Homo sapiens: one gene and its partners. The protein of the gene in region 4 purifies or fractionates together with the protein of the main gene of each other region. This does not show direct contact. Each region holds a gene or a part of one and is shown on either strand. Other genes may lie near its edges.

Region 1 (3,519 bases), on a different chromosome or scaffold from region 4:
AAAAACAAAAAAACAGGTACAGTGGCTCACGCCTGTAATCCCAACACTTTGGGAGGCCGAGGCAGGTGGATCACCTGAGGTCAGGAGTTCAAGACCAGCCTGGACAACATTGTGAAACTCCATCTCTACTAAAAATACAAAAGTTAGCCAGGCGTGGCGGCTGGCGCCTATAGTCCCAGCTATTTGGGAGGCTGAGGCAGGAGAATCGCTTGAACCCGGGAGGCAGAGGTTGCAGTGAGCCGAGATTGAGCCACTGCATTCCAGCCTGGGCGACAGAGGGAGACTCCATCACCAAAAAATAAATAAATATATAAAATAAAATAAAATCCAGCATTTGAGCTTAAGAAGTCAAGGCAGTGAGTAAAACTGGGCAGTGGGACTGTCTTCAGCCCAGGCCTCGTCCGGCTCCAGACTTAGGGCCCAGCTGACTCTCCATGTCTCCATCTTGGGGGCCCTAGGAGAAGATCAAGGCCCAACCTCTCCCCAGTCTCCTCCCCAACCCGAGCTGTATCCGCCCCTGTCCTGCCTCCCCTCCCCACGCCTCTCACCCGGGTGGGCAGGCTCTGAAGGGCTCTTCCCCAGTGGTCTCCGACTCTTGTCCTCTGCTGAGACCCCTGCCAGAACGTCCTCCTCCTCCTCTTCCATCAGCAACTCCTCCTCCTCCCCTTCACTGGCTGGGCTCTGCAGGGGTTAGGGGTCAGGGACAGCGGTGGGACCCTCAGCTGGGTGCCCCCCCGCTCCCTGCTAAATCCCACCCCAGCCCTTTGGCCTAAGCCGTAAGTGCCATTGCCCCACATGACCACTAGAGGGAGGGAGGGAGCAGAGAAGGCCTTAAGCTAAGACCTCACATTTTTTTTTATTTATTTGTAATTTATTTTTTATTTATTTATTTTTGAGACGGAGTCTCTCTCTGTCGCCCAGTCTGGAGTGCAGTGGTGTGATTTCGGCTCACTGCAACTTCTGCCTCCTGGGTTCAAGTGACTCTCCTGCCTCAGCCTCCTGAGTAGCTGGGGTTACAGGCATGCACCACCACATCCAGCTAATTTTGTATTCTTAGTAGAGACGGGATTTCTCCATGTTGGTCAGGCTGGTCTCAAACTCCCGACCTCAGGTGATCCACCCACCTCGGCCTCCCAAAGTGCTGGGATTACAGGCGTAAGCCACCGCACCCGGCTCACCTCGCATTTTATAATACAAGCCCTGCGCAACCTTTGGTGAGCACCATTGCCATTTATGCCTAGGGTTCCATTATTGGAACGCTAAGCATATGGGAGCTATTTATATCCTACTGCTCAAAGTCATCGCCAAGGTCTGATTGCAAAAATTCAAAGAATTGCAACCTCAGGCATAAATGGGTTTAAACTCTCTGAACTCTATCTATTCTTTTATCTTTTTTTTTTTCTTTGAGACACGGTCTCACTCTGTCACCCAGGCTGGAGCGCAGTGGCACGATCTTGGCTCACTGCAACCTCTGCCTTCCGGGTTCAAGCCATTCTCTTGCCTCAGCCTCCTGAGTAGCTGGGAGTACAGTTGCCCACCACCATGCCTGGCTAATTTTTGTCTTTTTAGTATAGATGAGGTTTTGCCATGTTGGCCAGGCTGGTCTCAAACTCCTGACCTCAAGTGACCCACCTGCCTCAGCCTCCCAAAGTGTTGGCATTACAGGTGTGAGCCACCGTGCCCAGCCAACTCTATTCTTTTTTTTTTTTTTTTTTTGAGACAGAGTCTCACTCTGTCGCCGAGGCTGGAGTGCAGTGGCATGATCTCGGCTCACTACAACCTCCACCTCCCGGGTTCAAGTGATTTTCCTGCCTCAGCCTCCCGAGTAGCTGGGATTATAGGCATGTGCCACCACGCCCAGCTAATTTTTTGTATTTTTAGTAGAGATGGGGTTTCACCGTGTTAGCCAGGATGGTCTCGATCGTCTGACCTTGTGATTTGCCCATCTCGGCCACCCAAAGTGCTGGGATTAAAGGCGTGAGCCACCGTGCCCGGCCGCCAAGTCTATTCTTATCTGTAAAAGGGCACAATGACCTCCAACTCCACGGGGATGGCATCAGGGTGAAATGAAATCATACGCACAAAGCATTTAGCATACACCTAGATGCTCCGTTCATTGAGCGAGCCAGCACCATACATAGGTGGCTTTCACGTCTTTCAGTAACCTTTCCTCCCAGTCGGGCACAGTGGCCCACGCCTGCAATCCCAGCACTTTGGGAGGCTGAGGCGGTGGACCACTTGAGGTCAGGAGTTCGAGACCAGCCTGGCCAACATGGTGAAACCCCATCTCTACTAAAAATACAAAAATTAGCCAGGCATGGTGGCGAACACCTGCAATCCCAGCTACTCAGGAGGCTGAGGCAGGAGGATCACTTGAACCCGGGAGGCGGAGACTGCAGTGAACTGAGATCACACCATTGTACTACAGCCTGGGTGACGGAGCGAGACTCTGTCTACAAAAATACAAATTAAAAATAACCTCTCCTCCAGTTCTGTCCTAAACTGCCCTTGTGGAGGTGACCTCTCTGGGTCACATCTCACTTTCTGTCCTCGTCACCTTCTCGGCAGCATCTGACCCAGCACAGCCTCCTACCTACCAGGACACGGTCCTCACACAACCCCCGGATCCCACGCTCGCCTGGCTCCCTCTCACCTCCCCTCTCGCTGTTGCTGGCCCCAGGCTGGGTTTTCAGGCCTCCTCCCTCCACACCCCTCCCAGGTGGCCTCATCCCCTCTCAGGGCTCCAAATCCTGTCTACACCTGACACTGCCCACAGTCCTGTCTCCAGCCCAAGCCTCGCCCGGCTCCAGACTCAGGGCCCAGCTGCCTCTCTATGTCTCCATGTGGGGGACTCACAGGGTCACACTCAACACAGCCATGCTGGGCCCCACTGAACCCCCAGATCTGCCCTTCCCACATCCCCCAATTTTGGCAGCTCGATCCACCCACTTGCTCAGGACTCCAGCATCTGATCTATCAGCAAATCTGGCGGATACACTTCCAAAAATACCTGGAACCTGCCCACTTCTTCCCTGCTCCATGGTCGGCCTGGGCCACTCCATCATCCCTCACCTGGACCAGCTCACTCACCTCTGCCCTGGTCCCTGGATCCCACCCTAACCCCCGACAGTCTAGTCCCCACAGCAGCCACCAGAGAACGCCTGTGAGCACCTCAGTCAGATCCTGTCCTTCCTCTGCCTGCAACACTCCATGGCTCCCACCTTCCTCCCGGTCAAAGCCCAAGTTCTCCCCATAACCTACAGAGCCCTGCATGACCTGCCCTGTCCCCTTCCCATCCTCCCCACCTCCTTCTCTCTCCCTTACTCACTCGGCTCCAGCCACACAGGCTCCTCGCTGTTCCTCCAACACACCAGGCACGGTCGTGCCCCAGGGCCTTTGCAGAGGCTGTTTCTCAGAAGTCCTCATGGCACCCTCCCTCCCTCCCCACCTTCAGTTCTCCGTTCAAATGTCACCTTCTCAGTGAAGCCCCCCCAACCACCTTCTTCCCCCACAACTCCC
Region 2 (3,519 bases), on a different chromosome or scaffold from region 4:
GCTACTTGGGAGGCTGAGGCAGGAGAATCACTGGGCCTGAGAGGTGGAGGTTGCAGTGAACCGAGATCATGCCACTGTATTCCAGTGTGGGTGACAGAGTGAGACCTTGTCTCAAAAAAAAAAAAAAAAAAAAAAAGAATAAGCCACATGTTGTGGCGCATGCCCCGGAGGTTGAGGCTGCGGTGAGCCATGTTCCTGCCAATGCACTCCAGCCTGGGCGACAGAGTGAGACCCTGTCTTAAAAAAAAAAAAAAAAAAAAAGGCCAGGCACAGTGGCTCATGCCTGTAGGATTACAGTCCCAGCACTTTGGAAGGATCACCTGAGGTCAGGAGCTCGAGACCACCCTGGCCAACATGGCGAAACCCTGTCTCTACTAAAAATACAAAAATTAGCCAGGTGTGATAGTACGTGCTTGTAATCCCAGCTACTCCGGATGCTGAGGCAGGAGAATTGCTAGAACCCGAGAGGCAGAGGCTGCAGTGAGCGAGATCGTGCCACTGCACTCCAGCCTGGGCAACAGAGCAAGACTCCATCTCAAAAACAACAACAAAAAACAACATGAAGAAGAGAAACTAGAGAGCCTGTGCCCCACAAGGCCACAAGGCAGAATTCCTTGGGCAGCAAAACGGAGCATCGGACCTGTGGTGAAAGCCACTCGGGAGACTGCCACAGGGGAAGACAACGGATCATCATCTGCATGCCTGTTCTCCATGTGTCCCCAGCTAGTTAATGATCAGATTTCCCGAATGCCCCCAGCGAGGAAGTGGGGGAGGGAGGAAAGCTGTTCCAGCCTGACCGAACACGTCACATTCTCATTCCCAGAGCTGCCTGTGATGATTCTAGTTAGTGGGAGTCTGTTCTGATGTCTTTCTGCTCCTGCACCATTGGGTAAGACGGAAAGCCTCAAATCCAGAGCTGCTCAGCTGAAGGCATGGCAGCCCTGGAGCCCTATAAAACCACTGGCAGCCCCAATGCCTCAGCACCTTTTTTTTTTTTTTGAGACAGAGTTTCGCTCTTGTTGCCCATGCTGGAATACAATGGCGCGATCTCAGCTCACTGCAACCTCCGTCTCTATCTGCTCCCGCCCGCCTCTGCTTTCCAAAGTGCTATAGGCGTGAGCCACAGCGCCTGGCCGCCTCAGCACATGTTTAAGTGTAGCCCAGTGGTTCTCAAACGGAGACAGTTTTGCCCCTGGGGCATCTGACAATGTCTGGAGTCATTTTAAATTGTCAGACTGGGCAATGGGGGTGCTACTGGCATCGTGGTGGAGGCCAGGGGTGCTGCAAACATAACACAGTGTGCACAATGGCCCCTAGGAGACGCCCAGCGCCGGCAGTGCTGTGCCAAAGCGCCACGGCCAGCTACACTGGATGCTGACTAAAGGCTATCTTAATATTTTGCAGTTAGATGGACACATTTCCCCCCAGATGTGAAATTCTATTCTCTATCTTCCCCATTGCTCTGTGTCTTTTTCTTTTTTTTGAGATGGAGTCTCTCTGTCGCCCAGGCTGGGGTGCAGTGGCGTGATCTCAACTCACCTCTGCCTTCCCGGTTCAAGCGATTCTCCCACCTCAGCTTCCCCAATAGCTGGGCTTACAGGCACCCGGCTAATTTTTGTATTTTTAGCAGAGATGGGGTTTCACCATGTTGGCCAGGCTGCTCTCCAACTCCTGACTGCAGGTGATCTACCCGCCTCAGCCTCCCAAAGTGCTGGAATTACAGGTGTAAGCCCCCACGCCTGGCCTTTCTTTTTCCTTTTTTTAAGACAAAGTCTCGCTCTCTGTAGCCCAGGCTGGAGTGTAATGGTGCAATCACGACTCACTACAGCCTCGACCTCCTGGGCTCAAGGGATCCTCGTGCCTCAGCCTTCCAAGTAGCTGGGATTACAGGCATGCACCACCATGCCTGACTACTTTATTTTTTGTAGAGACAGGTCTTGCTATGTTACCCTGGCTGGTCTCAAACTCCTGGGCTCTAGTGATCCTCCTGCCTTGGCCTCCCAAAGTGCTGGGATTACAGGCATGGGCCACCACGACCGGTCACGGTCTTTTCATAGGTAGGTATAAAGTTATATGTCCTCTGGTTCAGTCTTATAATTAAGTTAGGACATTCACTTATTTCACAAAATCCAAATAAGTTATTTTCAGGACTGTATGAAGGAGGTATGGCGTCTCATCAGAATCATTCACATATAATTCTAATTTAACATCAGGATGCAGACTGCTGTCCTTCCAGACTCCAGCATGACACTCCTGTGCAAACCTGGAGGGCCAAGCTGGGGCCTGCTCCCCGCTGACCAGCGCCCAGCACACACTGGGGAGAGGCGGCCCCTGCGTCGGCTACAGTGGCCTCACAGTGTCCTGAGAGCACACCAGAGCCCTCCTGACATCTGTGTAAATGCCTCATCAGCGTGCCCTTCCCAGGCATGGCCGAGTACGGTGCCCTGGCAGGGAGACTGTGTTACATGGTCTTTAGGCTTCTCTACATCTACCTGGTGACCCTTTGCCCTCTTGAAGAAGGAGGACGAGAAGCATTTAAAAAACAGTCTTTGGCCTCTTACCTACCCAATTCCCTGAGAAAAACAAACTTGAGCGATGTAGTGCTTTGAAATTTCACTGGCAGTGTAAAGTGTCCCTAACACCTCCAGCCACCTCAGAGTCACCAACACAGAGCCACTTCCTGCTAAGGACTCTCTCAAAGGAGGCTCCAAAAAATGTCCCAGACCATTCTCCTTCATATGCCCTGTGCTCCAGCCACCGAGCCTCCTTCAGGCTGCCTTCACTGGGACAAACCTCCTGGTGCCTCAGGACCTTGGCACGCCCTCTTCCCTTGCCTGGCTCATTCTCCTCTAGGAGGCCCTCGCTCCTGCAGTGCTCCCACCACACAGACCCTGTCCTCCTCCAGGGGCCCCATCCCACTCAGAGGGAAAGCGATGTCTGCTTTATGGAGGCCCCTACGCCCACCTGTCCCTGTCACCTCCCGCCACACCGGCCTCCTCACTGTCCCGAGAGCTCCCGCTCTTCCATCTTCCAAGCTGCTCTTTCCTCAGCTCCTTCAAAGCCCTGCTCACTGTTCCTGGGCAGAAAGGGCTTCCCCCTCCCTAGGCTGAGCCTGGGGCTGCCAGCCACTCCCCGCTGTGTCTTCGTCCTGGAATTGCCCACACGGGCCAAATGCGGTCGCCTGCGCCCCCATCTGGAAGGCGGGCTCCATTTGGGGCCCCCCGCTCTGTCCTCAGCACAGTCTGGCCCTGTGGGACCACCTTATGTCTCTGTAGCGAGACATAAGCTCTAAAAGTGCAGGGTTCGTGTCGCGGCCACACACCAAGCACTCAGCAGAGACCGGACGCGTACCCAGTACGTGACAAACACTGGCAGAGTGAATGAATGTGAGAACCAGGCGTGCAGATCTAACGGTGAGCTTAGGGTATGAAAAGCCAGCTGGATGACTGAGGTGAGCGTATACACAGAGGCAATTCTGCAAAACCTTACAGGCTCAGAGACTTAACGTTCTGGAAGGAA
Region 3 (3,519 bases), on a different chromosome or scaffold from region 4:
CAGCAAGTCAATGGGCTGAAATATCAGGCATGACTGGCATTTCAATCCACTCTATAAAAAAAAGGCATCAGTAATGTCTTTTTCGAGCACACCACTTTTTGTTCATGTAAAACCAAGCGTTTATATTATGATTTTAATTTCTGCCTTAAGTGAGATTCTGAATTCAGTGATTTGCTATTTATTTAACTATTCCATACTGTACTACTGAAATTAAGAGTATCTCTCATGTTTAATATGACTAGGACTCCAAAACACAAGAACTGAAAAATCTTAAGAATACAACTACAGTCATGCCTGCATAACAACATTTTGGTCAACAACGGACCACTTATACTATGTGGTCCCATAAGATTATAATGGCTATACCACACAGCCTAGGTGTGTAGTAAACGATATCATCTATGTCTGTGTAAGTACACTCTATGATGTACACCAAATGATGAAACTGCCAGACAAGGCAATTCTTAGACTGTATCCCCGTTGTTAAGCGATGCATGACTGTATTTATCTGATATTTTAAGTGATCGCAAATATTACAAAACACACACAATAATATGAATTTTATAAAGCGCTCAGACTACTTTCACTTAGAAGTTTAAAAATTTTCCAACAATTACACAAACCTGTGAGATAAAATAAATCTCAAATAAAGTTTGAGAAGTGGAGCTGATGGAGGTGACGGGCCAATGGGGTGGGACCTAAAACTCAGAATGACCTCAGTAATGTCAAATGTAAAAGTATTTGTTGAAATGTACACAACAGATTTACCCAACCAAACTGAACCTCAGTTACCAAAGTGGATCTGAATAAATTTAAGGTGCAATTATTTCAAAGGGGAACCCTTATGAGAGGCTGAAATAAAACAAAATTTAGTTTTCGGTCTTCCCTAATGCAAACTTGTCTTGCCTCTCTAAAACTGATAAAATCATTTCAAAATCTGAGGGAGCAAAAATATTTATAAAGAGAATGTTGTTAACCCCATGGGGAGAAGAACTTACCTAATACACCACTAGGTTCAATAGGATACTCAAGGATTGATGTAGCTGGTGCCAATGTGTAGGGGTACTCATAGGGTGTATAGATTAAACCAGCTTCGGGCCCTGGAGGAACTATTGCAGCAGTTGGGTGAGGAGTTCCGTTTGGCATGACAGCGGTCTGTATTTGTCTGATCAAAGGCATTATGGTAGGGCCAGCTGGCGTAGGAGTACGCAGGGCAGCTGGTGGGAGAACCGGCGCAGGCCCAGTAATGATCCTTGGAGCAGCCTGGGCTGTTGCTGCAAGAGAAAAGGCAAGGGCTGCTACAGTAAGCAAAGAAATTTAGAAAGAAGTATAGAGACAGCAGTATAAAATACGGAAAAATGAGAAGGGAGTAGGAAAAAGAAAGGAAAAGCAGGAAAGAAGAAAAATAAAAGGAAATCATTAGTACATGCGCTGATCACACAAAAATGCAAAAGCACACCAATCAAATGCAAACAGCTTTCCCTTTCCCAATGTGATTAAGAATGTGCAAAAATTAAAAAGCCATTGTAAAAAAATGAATGACACCATTAAATAGGTTATATTTAGTTCATACATTTGATATATCTAAGATTTCATAAGACTAAAGTACATGCAGAAGCACAATGAAACACTTGCATTAACAGATGTTAAAAAATAATTTGTAACCGGAGTCCACAGAAACTCAGTTTTGGTATATTTCTAAAGTACAGCTTTAGTTTCAAAGTAAAGAAAGAATAATTTTTATTGCATTTAGTCAAGTAACCACTAGGTATATATGTACATTTCCTGCATCTTTAGGAACCAACGTCACAGAAAATCTTAAAAAGCCCTACTTCTAAATTCCTATTAATGATATACTCACATTTTCATGAGTAAATTAATGTCAACAATTTGTAAAGTAACTACTTCTAAACCCACTAGAGGTTGCCTACATCTTCTAAATCTGGCTAGAACTTAAAAATTCTATGTGTTTTAAATAATCAGTAATTTAAACATGGTATGTTCATATAAATGACATGTATGAATCTTAAATTGTTTCAAAATATAAATTTCACATTATTTCATTTTAAACATAAAAAAGCTATCCTCTTACGGCTTATAAAAACATGCATAGATACGCATAAAAACAAAAATAGGACGGAAAAAGAGTTATCACCCACTGATCTCTGTGAACTCACATATGAAATCAACAGGGAAAAATACTAGAGGGAAAACATGCAAGCAAAGTGAAAGGACAGAACTCAACAGAGGGTCATTTCAGTCAGATACACTTCAAATTCACTTTTTCAAAATAAGCTTTCAATATGTTGTCTTTTGCATAAATTTAACAAGATAAGCTGCAAGCCCTACATCTGTAGTTAACCAAACAGAAAATTTCTTAAACACTTGAATTTAGAGATTGTGATTTTGTTAAAATAATGTAAGTTTATCAACCTAAAACTTCAACATGCTGACATAAAATAAAATCAAGAGTGTCCTCAATTCATGAAAGCATTAAAAATAGGACTGTCAGCCCCATATCAAGTGACAGAACAGTTATTTCAACTGTTCACTTTGTATGAACTATTATTGTGTTGCCAAAAGGAAAAAAGTCTGTAGACAAAACAACGCAGACAGCAGTAACCCTGGGCCTCAGAGCTCATTCTTACGTGATTTAATGTTGGCATCTCTGTAGGTGCCATTCAGAATCGCAAGCTCCATCAGCTGCATCTTCTTCAGGCTGTCTTCTCCTTCTGCCTATACATGGAAAACACATGAGATGAAAGCATTTGAGACTGTCCACAAATATAATAGCTATATCTACACACAAGCCTTAAAGTAAGTATCATGTGACTACAGTCACCTGTTTTAATAAGGGGAAAAAAAGATCAAGAACCAAAAGGTGCTAACATAATGGAGCCTGCTTTCTCTGTTTTCTCAGTAAAGGCATGTTGATATACAGCATATTGTATTTGTAAATTTTTTGTCAGTTACACCGATTTATTAAAGTTCCCCTAAAAAGCTTTACTTTTAAATAGAAATGAATGAAAATGTGAGATAAGACTAAACATAACATATTCTCTTCAGCATCTATCATTTTAAAATTACTTTAATTAATTTTATTGTTTTTAGATACAGGGTCTTGCTCTGTTACCCAGGCTGGAGTGCTGTGGCATGATCCTAGCTCACAGCCACCTTGAATTCCTAGGTTCGAGCCATCCTCCTACCTCAGCCTCCGAAGTAGCTGCGACTAGAGGCACGCGCCACCATGCCTGGCTAATTTTTTTTATTTTTTGTAGAGACAAGGTCTCGTTTTGTAGCCCAGGCTGGTCTCAAACTCCTGGCTTCAAGTGATCCTCCTGCTTCAGCCTCCCAAAGTGCTAAGTTTACAAGTGTGAGCCACTGCACCCAGCCAGCAACTATCATTTTGCTGAATATTCCAAAACTCAAATGTGTTCGTTAAACACACACATACACACACGCGCGTGCACATGTGCACACAAATAATTTTAAACATACAAGATTTGATTACAGAATTTA
Region 4 (3,519 bases):
AGTTTGTCAGTATGATAAAGAGGTATACTAAAACCTAAAGCTAATATCATACTTAATTATAAAACACCAAATACTTGCTTCAGAAGATTTGAAACAAAGCAAAGATGTCTGCCATCATCACTCTTATTTAACTTTGTACCATAAGTCTTAGCCAGGATAATAAGGCAAAGAAAAAAAAAAAAAAGGAATAAAGATTGGGTTGGAAAGGAAGAACTAAAACTATTTCTATTCATAAGCAACATGACTGTTTGCATACACAGAGAATGCTAAGGAATACATAACAAAACTTCTACAGCTTCTAGAAGTAATAAATGAATGTTTACAAAAATCTCAAGATATAAGGTCAATATATAAACAGCTGTATGTCTATATACTAGTGGCAAACAATTTGAAAATAAATTTTTTTAAATTCCACTTACAATAGTATCAAAATAATGCACGGAAAAAAGAGATGAATAGTCAACTTATAGATTACAGTTCCTTAACATATCTTACATATCTTTTAATATATGAACCTTATTTTTAAAAAGACCATTCAACATATTAGTCTTCAAGGTAATGTCACTCAGAACCGCAATGACACAGCAAATGAAACAATCAACAAAATGAAAAGGCAACATATGGAATGAAAGAAAATATTAGCAAACCATATATCTGATAAGAGGTTAATATCCAAAATTGAATACTTGAAATACACTAAAAGAGTGTTTATAAGGAACTCATATGGACCAACAGCAAAAAAAAAAAAAAAAAGAAAAAGTAACATGATTAAAAAATGGGCAAAGGAGCTGAACAGACACTTTGCAAAAAAAAGACATACAAATGGCCAGTGGGTATATGAAAAGGCACTCAATATCACTAATCATCAGGGAAATGCAAATAAAACCATAAAGAGCTATCACCGCACACCTGTTAGGATGGCTATTACCAAAATGACAGCATGTGGTCAGGCACAGTGGCTCATGCCTTAATCCCAGCACTTTGGGAGGCCGAGACAGGCGGATCACTTGAGGTTGGGAGTTCAAGACCAGCCTGGCCAATATGGTGAAACCCGATCTCTACTAAAAATACAAAAGATTAGCTGGGTGTGTTGGCGGGTGCCTGTAATCCCAGCTACTTGGGAGACTGTGGTGGGAGAATTGCTTGAACCCAAGAGACGGAGGTTGCAGTGAGCCAAGATGGCACCACTGCACTCTAGTTTGGGTGCAGCAGAGCGAGACTCTGTCTGAAAAAAAAAGACAGCACGTAACAAGTGTTGCCGAGGGTGTGGAGAGAAGGCAACTCTTGCATACTGTTGGTGGGAATGTAAATGGAAAACAGTATGAAGGTTCCTCAAAAAGTTAAGAATAGAACTATTATATGAACTAGCAATGCCACTCCTAGGTATATATCCAGAGGAAATGAAATCAGTATCTCAAAGATACATCTGCAAAACAATCTTCATTGTAGCATTATTCACAATAGCCAAGATATGGAATGTCCACAGACAGATGAATGAGAAAATGTGGTATACACATATAATGGAATATTATTCAGCCATCAAAAAGGAAGTCCTACCATCTGTGACAACATGGATGAACCTGGAGGACATCTGCTATGTGAAATAAGCCAGATATAGAAAGATAAACACCACCTGATCTCATACCTATATGGAATCTAGAAAAGTCAAACTCACAGAAGCAGAGTACATGCTGGCTGCCAGGGGCTGGGGAGGTGGGGAGATGTTGCTCAAAGATGCAAACCTTCAGTTATAAGACGAATAAGTTCTGGAGAGTTAACGTACAGCATGGTGACTACAGTTAATAATACTGTATTGTATTCTTGAAATATACTAAGAGAGTGTTCTCACCACATATGAGCACAGGTGCACGTGCACACACACACACACAGTCATACATCAAATCTTCACTTTGTACACCCTAAATATATACAATTTTTATTGTCGATTAGATCTCAATAAAACTGGGGGAAAAAGCCACAGTGAGATACTACTTTGCACTCAGTAGGATGGCTAGAACCTCAATGTTAGACAGGACCTAGAGAGTGGGCTGACATCAAAATGTGGGTGAGGCTGTGAAGAAATTGGAACCCCTCATACACTGCCGGTGGGAATGAAAAATGGCATAGCCACTTTGGAAAACAGTCTGGCAGTTCCTTAAAAGGTTAAACAAAAGAGTTACCATATAAGCTAGCAATTCTACTCTGAGGTATATACCCAACTGAAGTGAAAATATATGTCCACACAAAAACTTGTATGTAAATGTTCACAGCAACATTATTCATAATGGCCAAAAAGTGTTAACAATCCAAATGCCCATCAACTGATGAATGGATAAAAATGTTGTAGATCCATGTAATGCAATATTATTTGGTAATAAAAGGAACAAAGTACTGATTCATGCCAAAATATGGAAGAAACGTGGAAATATTATGCTAAATGAAAGAAGCCAGACACAAAAAGCCACACATTACATGATTCCATTTATATGAAGCATCCAGAATATGCAAATCCATAGAGACAGAGGTAGATTCATGGTTGACAAGGGTAGGGTGATGGAAAGGATGGGGAGAGGTTGCTAATGAGTATGGAGTTTCTTTAGGGGGCAATGAAAATGTTATAAAGTTGACTGATCCCGGAGTCAGTAATGGCTGTGAAAAAATAAAATAAAATAAAATGGATTGGGGTGACAGTTGTACAATTCTCTCTTTTTGTATGATGTTGGAAATTTTCCATAATAAAATATTATTTTAAAACCTCAAAAGTAAAGGGGAAAAAACCAGCCCTAGAATCTACTGTGTCCACCATGAGCATAGACTCAACCACTGGACTCAAGAGCCTGCCAATCCACAGTGGGTCTGTTGTCCTTGGTGCAGAAGATGCCATCTGACCTCAAATGACATGCTGACACTGACCAAAGTGGGGTAGTCAGTCCACTAGTGTGCAGAGGCCAGGTAGTCTCTAACACCAGTGACCGATGTCAGCCCACTCTCTAGGTCCTTTCAAGAATCCTAACTTTTGGAAAACCTCTCCCGGAAATATCAAGTGTTGGTATTGTATTTACCTGGTGTTCACAGTGTTTGCAGACCATATTACTAGTGAGTCTTCCATGAAAAGGATGTTGAGACTTCCAGTGATTGGATGTAGGGTGAGGTGACCCTGGAATGCAAAAAGTTTTTTGATATGTCACTTTTAGCCCTTTGGCACCAAGCTCAACATTCATCTTCCTTTCTAGCATGTGGTAGAAACTACCTCTTAAGAAAAAATATTCTTGAAAAGTACATTGAAATAGCTTTCCTCATTGACTTCCATCCAAAAGACATCCCATTCCTTCATAGGAGAATTTACACAGATCTATCTTTATATACGGTTTCTGTATAATGGGTAGAGCCACATTTTAAAAAGGAATTTGTGTTGAATAATGTCTTTTTACAAACATATGCTTAAAATGTTTGAGATGTCAAAAGAAGGATACCACAAGTGAACATTCCATAAAGCGAGATAAAATCTTCTGAAATAAA
Region 5 (3,519 bases), on a different chromosome or scaffold from region 4:
GTATTAGGTTAAGACCTGAGTCTGCTCTGGCACAAGCACAGAAATGTTTTGCATTGGTAGGTACTACTTTCTTTTGTATTTTCCTAAACATCACTTTTATTTTCCAGCGTCAACAAAAATGAGTATCTCATTGTCTACAAAGTCGTCTTTTTCTTTCTTTCCCAAAGGATAACTACTGAGGAAAAAAGGTGCTGATTGATACCTAGCTCTTGTATTTCTCTGGACATTTGTTTGGGTTCATCTTGATAGATGTTTGTCCCTGATTTTATACTTCCCTAAACAGAACTGGTCTCCCTGCTTCATCATAAATCAATATAAAGAGCAAAAACATTTTGAGGAAACACTCTGTAAACATGACACCATGTAACTTGCTCTCTCACCCCTGCTTCATAGAACTGTTTCTTAATATTCAGAAACACAAAGCTCAAAAGGTTGTTTTTTTTTTTTTTTTAAGTAAAAATTTTTCTAGTAAAATAAGATACTTCCAGTTAGCTGTATGGCTGGAGTCGTAAAAGAATTTTCAGTTTAAAGGAAGAAATTATGTCACAAATATATATTATAAATGAAAATGACAAAAATTTTACTAGATTTAAAATTCATTTATTGCAAAGTTCACTTCTTACAAATTAGTATGCCCTCTTCTACAGTATTGAACATCTTGAAATTGTATAGTGGCCATGGAGTCCTAGTTGTACATAACCTTTGGCTCTCTGCTGCTGAGATACCTACTTGGAACCCTTTTGGATGCTGCAGATTATGTTAGCAAATCACCTGTTTTTTTGGAAATATTTATGTAATTTTGTGTGTTTATGTTAACATTCCATGAGTTTTTGAGTTCTTGATTTGACAGGCCTGTTTTGATTTTTTATAGTACCGCCAGGCATATACGGGAAACAACTCTTCACAAATCCAAGCAGCTATGAAAGGTTTTGAAGAGGTCATAAAGAAATTTCCAAGGTGTGCCGAAGGCTATGCACTATACGCCCAGGTAAATGTTTTTTCAGGTTTTTTAAAAATAACTGCATACATATGCCAAATCTCAGTATGGAAATCAGAAAACAGTGCTATCATGGTTGCAGCTTCTTTGGAAGCAGGTGGCTTTGTTCCTGATTGATTCTCATGGCCCCTGGTTGGTCCCGAATCACCTCAGAAGAGGCTCCTTTGTTACACAATTTGGAAATCATGGCCCTAAACTCAATATGGGGAAGCTTAAGGCGAGAATTTCCCTCCTGTCTTCATTTGGATTGGTTTTGCAAAAAGTAATTACCTTAGGAAAATTTACCGTATGCAATTGGTGGAGAAAATATCCACGGAAAGGCTTTTCTTTCTATCTGGTCACTGCCTTTTTATATGGCTAGGTTGTTGTAACGGTTTATTTTAATTTATCTTTGCTTTATCTAAAATTCCTGAAACTCTCTTGGTTTAGGATTGAAGCTATGGAAAGCAGGATTTAAATCTGAATTTTTTTATTGTAGTCTGAAATTCTTGAAAACTTCTTAGTTTTAAATCATCCATTTAAATGAAAATGATTAGCTTCTTGTAGTGACGGTCATACATTTTCCCCTCAAATAAAAGATCTCTGAATGACTCAGTTTTCTTTCTTAAAGCTGAAAATTGGTTTTGGTGTCTACATAAACTAGCCATCTCAATACTCTATATCAGGGGTACAGCTGCTTTGTGGCCTCTTAGGAATGGGGCTGCACAGCAGGTGAGCCTTGGGCAAGCATCACCACCTGAGCTCCACCTCCTGTCACTGTCAAATCTGCAGCAGCATTAGATTCTCATGCCTGATGATCTGAGGTGGAACAGTTTCATCCCAAAACCATCCCTCCTCCTCCTACCCCCATCCATGCAAAAATTGTCTTCCACAAAACCAATCCGTGGTGCCAAAAGTGCTGGGAAGGTGTTGGGGACTGCTGCTCTATGTAATTTATTTTTCTTTTTTTTTCTCTTTTTAATTACAAAAGACATGTTGGGTTTTTCCCCACAGCACAGAAATAGGAAACGATAACAAATTACTATCCCCTGGCTGGGTGTGGTGGCTCCTGCCTGCAATCCCAGCACTTTGGGAGGCTGAGGCAGGCGGATCACTTGAGCCAGGAGTTTTGAGACTAGCCTGGCCAGCATGGAGAAACCCCATCTCTACTAAAAATACAAAAATTAGCTGGGTGTGGTTTGGCGCACACCTGTTATCCCAGCAACTCGGGAGGCTGAGGTAGGAGAATCGCTTGAACCCAGGAGGCGGAGGTTGCAGTGAGCTGAGATCACACTACCACACTCCAGCCTGGGCAAGAGTGAGACTCCATTTCCAAAAAAAAAAAAAAAAAAAAAAAATACCATCGCTGGTTGACCCCTCTCCTTAAACCATTCTTAAGGATGCTTATTTTGTTTTTAATTTCCTTCATGGTATCTGTAGGCAGGTTATAAGAACAATTTCACAAGGATTTTAAGGGTTTATTGAGGGTGGAACTATGAGAAAATTGATTTGTGTTGGATCTGTTCTTTAGAGGTAGGTCTTATATATAACTACATTAAAGTGTACATTTTAATCCTATGAATGGGTACACTTGAGTTTATGCCTTATAATTAGTAACAAACCAGGAAATGACAGCAACATCCTCATCATTGTCATGGAATTCAGAAGGGCTTTTTTGGTGCAGATTTCTCTAAGCATCTAGAAGAGCAAAGGCCACCGAATAGGAACCACTACTGGGGAACAACTCCTCTGCAGAACTTTCCCAATAGCATATTTCCCTATTACCATTCTGCCTTCAAGATAGGTTTGGTTTGTATGAGCTGTCTTCTCATCAGCATTAGCATTATTACAGTCAGTTTGCACTCAAATTTCTTTTCTTTGGTCTGTTTTCTAATTTTAGCTTCACTATATAGTATATGTAACTTTATATATGCATACAGTACGTGTGTGTGTATGTGTATGTGTATATATATATACTTAGTGTAACTTTTTTGGCCCTCAAAGCTTTGGCGTAGATGCTGGCCAACTCGCAAAGTTACAGCTTGAGCATAGTCTGATATCCACAGAACTGTGCCTTCCATTTCAGCCGTGGGATTTGTCTTAAAAAGTTGATTATAGCTGCTGCTTTTGTTTTCAAAATAAGTATTTATTACATTATTGTTAACTATGACAAACAATTGGGGAAAATCCTAAATGTTAACAGAAAATTGAATTATGTTTGCAGAATTGTGGTACACTCACTTAATGGTATATTATGCAGCCATTAAAAGTTACAAATACATTAAAGTTACAAAGCAAGATACAGCACTGCCTATTATTAAAGGGAGAATTGCATACAAAATGAACTCAACCATGTGAAAGAAAACAAATAGGGAAGTAAATAGAGATAGAAAAATATATCAGGAAGGCATCCATGCTCACAATGATGGAAGCTATAAAAATATTTCTACTTTCTATATCTTTCTGATTTTTATTATAAAGAAGATGTGCTGGCTACATTTCTTTGATATTTTTAAGAGCGATTTTTAAAATATTTAAGTTGG

The links.
Region 1: the proteins of USP30 (region 4) and MPND purify together in Homo sapiens (affinity purification with mass spectrometry, with the first as the bait; one large-scale study listed by BioGRID). This does not show direct contact.
Region 2: the proteins of USP30 (region 4) and SS18L1 purify together in Homo sapiens (affinity purification with mass spectrometry; one large-scale study listed by BioGRID and IntAct). This does not show direct contact.
Region 3: the proteins of USP30 (region 4) and QKI purify together in Homo sapiens (affinity purification with mass spectrometry; one large-scale study listed by BioGRID and IntAct). This does not show direct contact.
Region 5: the proteins of USP30 (region 4) and TOMM70 purify together in Homo sapiens (affinity purification with western blotting, with the first as the bait; one study listed by BioGRID). This does not show direct contact.

The regions. Positions count from the first base shown.
Region 1 is NC_000019.10:4,350,059-4,353,577, reverse strand, and holds part of MPND (MPN domain-containing protein), read right to left. Parts: intron 682-3,519; coding exon 549-681; intron 1-548. UniProt on the Homo sapiens protein: Probable protease. Acts as a sensor of N(6)-methyladenosine methylation on DNA (m6A): recognizes and binds m6A DNA, leading to its degradation. Binds only double strand DNA (dsDNA) in a sequence-independent manner.
Region 2 is NC_000020.11:62,174,759-62,178,277, reverse strand, and holds part of SS18L1 (calcium-responsive transactivator), read right to left. Parts: exon of another isoform or gene 1,960-3,519; intron 1-1,959. UniProt on the Homo sapiens protein: Transcriptional activator which is required for calcium-dependent dendritic growth and branching in cortical neurons. Recruits CREB-binding protein (CREBBP) to nuclear bodies.
Region 3 is NC_000006.12:163,561,199-163,564,717, reverse strand, and holds part of QKI (KH domain-containing RNA-binding protein QKI), read right to left. Parts: intron 2,737-3,519; coding exon 2,649-2,736; intron 1,299-2,648; coding exon 999-1,298; coding exon of another isoform or gene 973-998; exon of another isoform or gene 52-972; coding exon of another isoform or gene 8-51; exon of another isoform or gene 1-7. UniProt on the Homo sapiens protein: RNA reader protein, which recognizes and binds specific RNAs, thereby regulating RNA metabolic processes, such as pre-mRNA splicing, circular RNA (circRNA) formation, mRNA export, mRNA stability and/or translation.
Region 4 is NC_000012.12:109,073,076-109,076,594, reverse strand, and holds part of USP30 (ubiquitin carboxyl-terminal hydrolase 30), read right to left. Parts: intron 3,158-3,519; coding exon 3,063-3,157; intron 1-3,062. UniProt on the Homo sapiens protein: Deubiquitinating enzyme tethered to the mitochondrial outer membrane that acts as a key inhibitor of mitophagy by counteracting the action of parkin (PRKN): hydrolyzes ubiquitin attached by parkin on target proteins, such as RHOT1/MIRO1 and TOMM20, thereby blocking parkin's ability to drive mitophagy.
Region 5 is NC_000003.12:100,370,075-100,373,593, reverse strand, and holds part of TOMM70 (mitochondrial import receptor subunit TOM70), read left to right. Parts: coding exon 1-56; intron 57-871; coding exon 872-988; intron 989-3,519. UniProt on the Homo sapiens protein: Acts as a receptor of the preprotein translocase complex of the outer mitochondrial membrane (TOM complex). Recognizes and mediates the translocation of mitochondrial preproteins from the cytosol into the mitochondria in a chaperone dependent manner.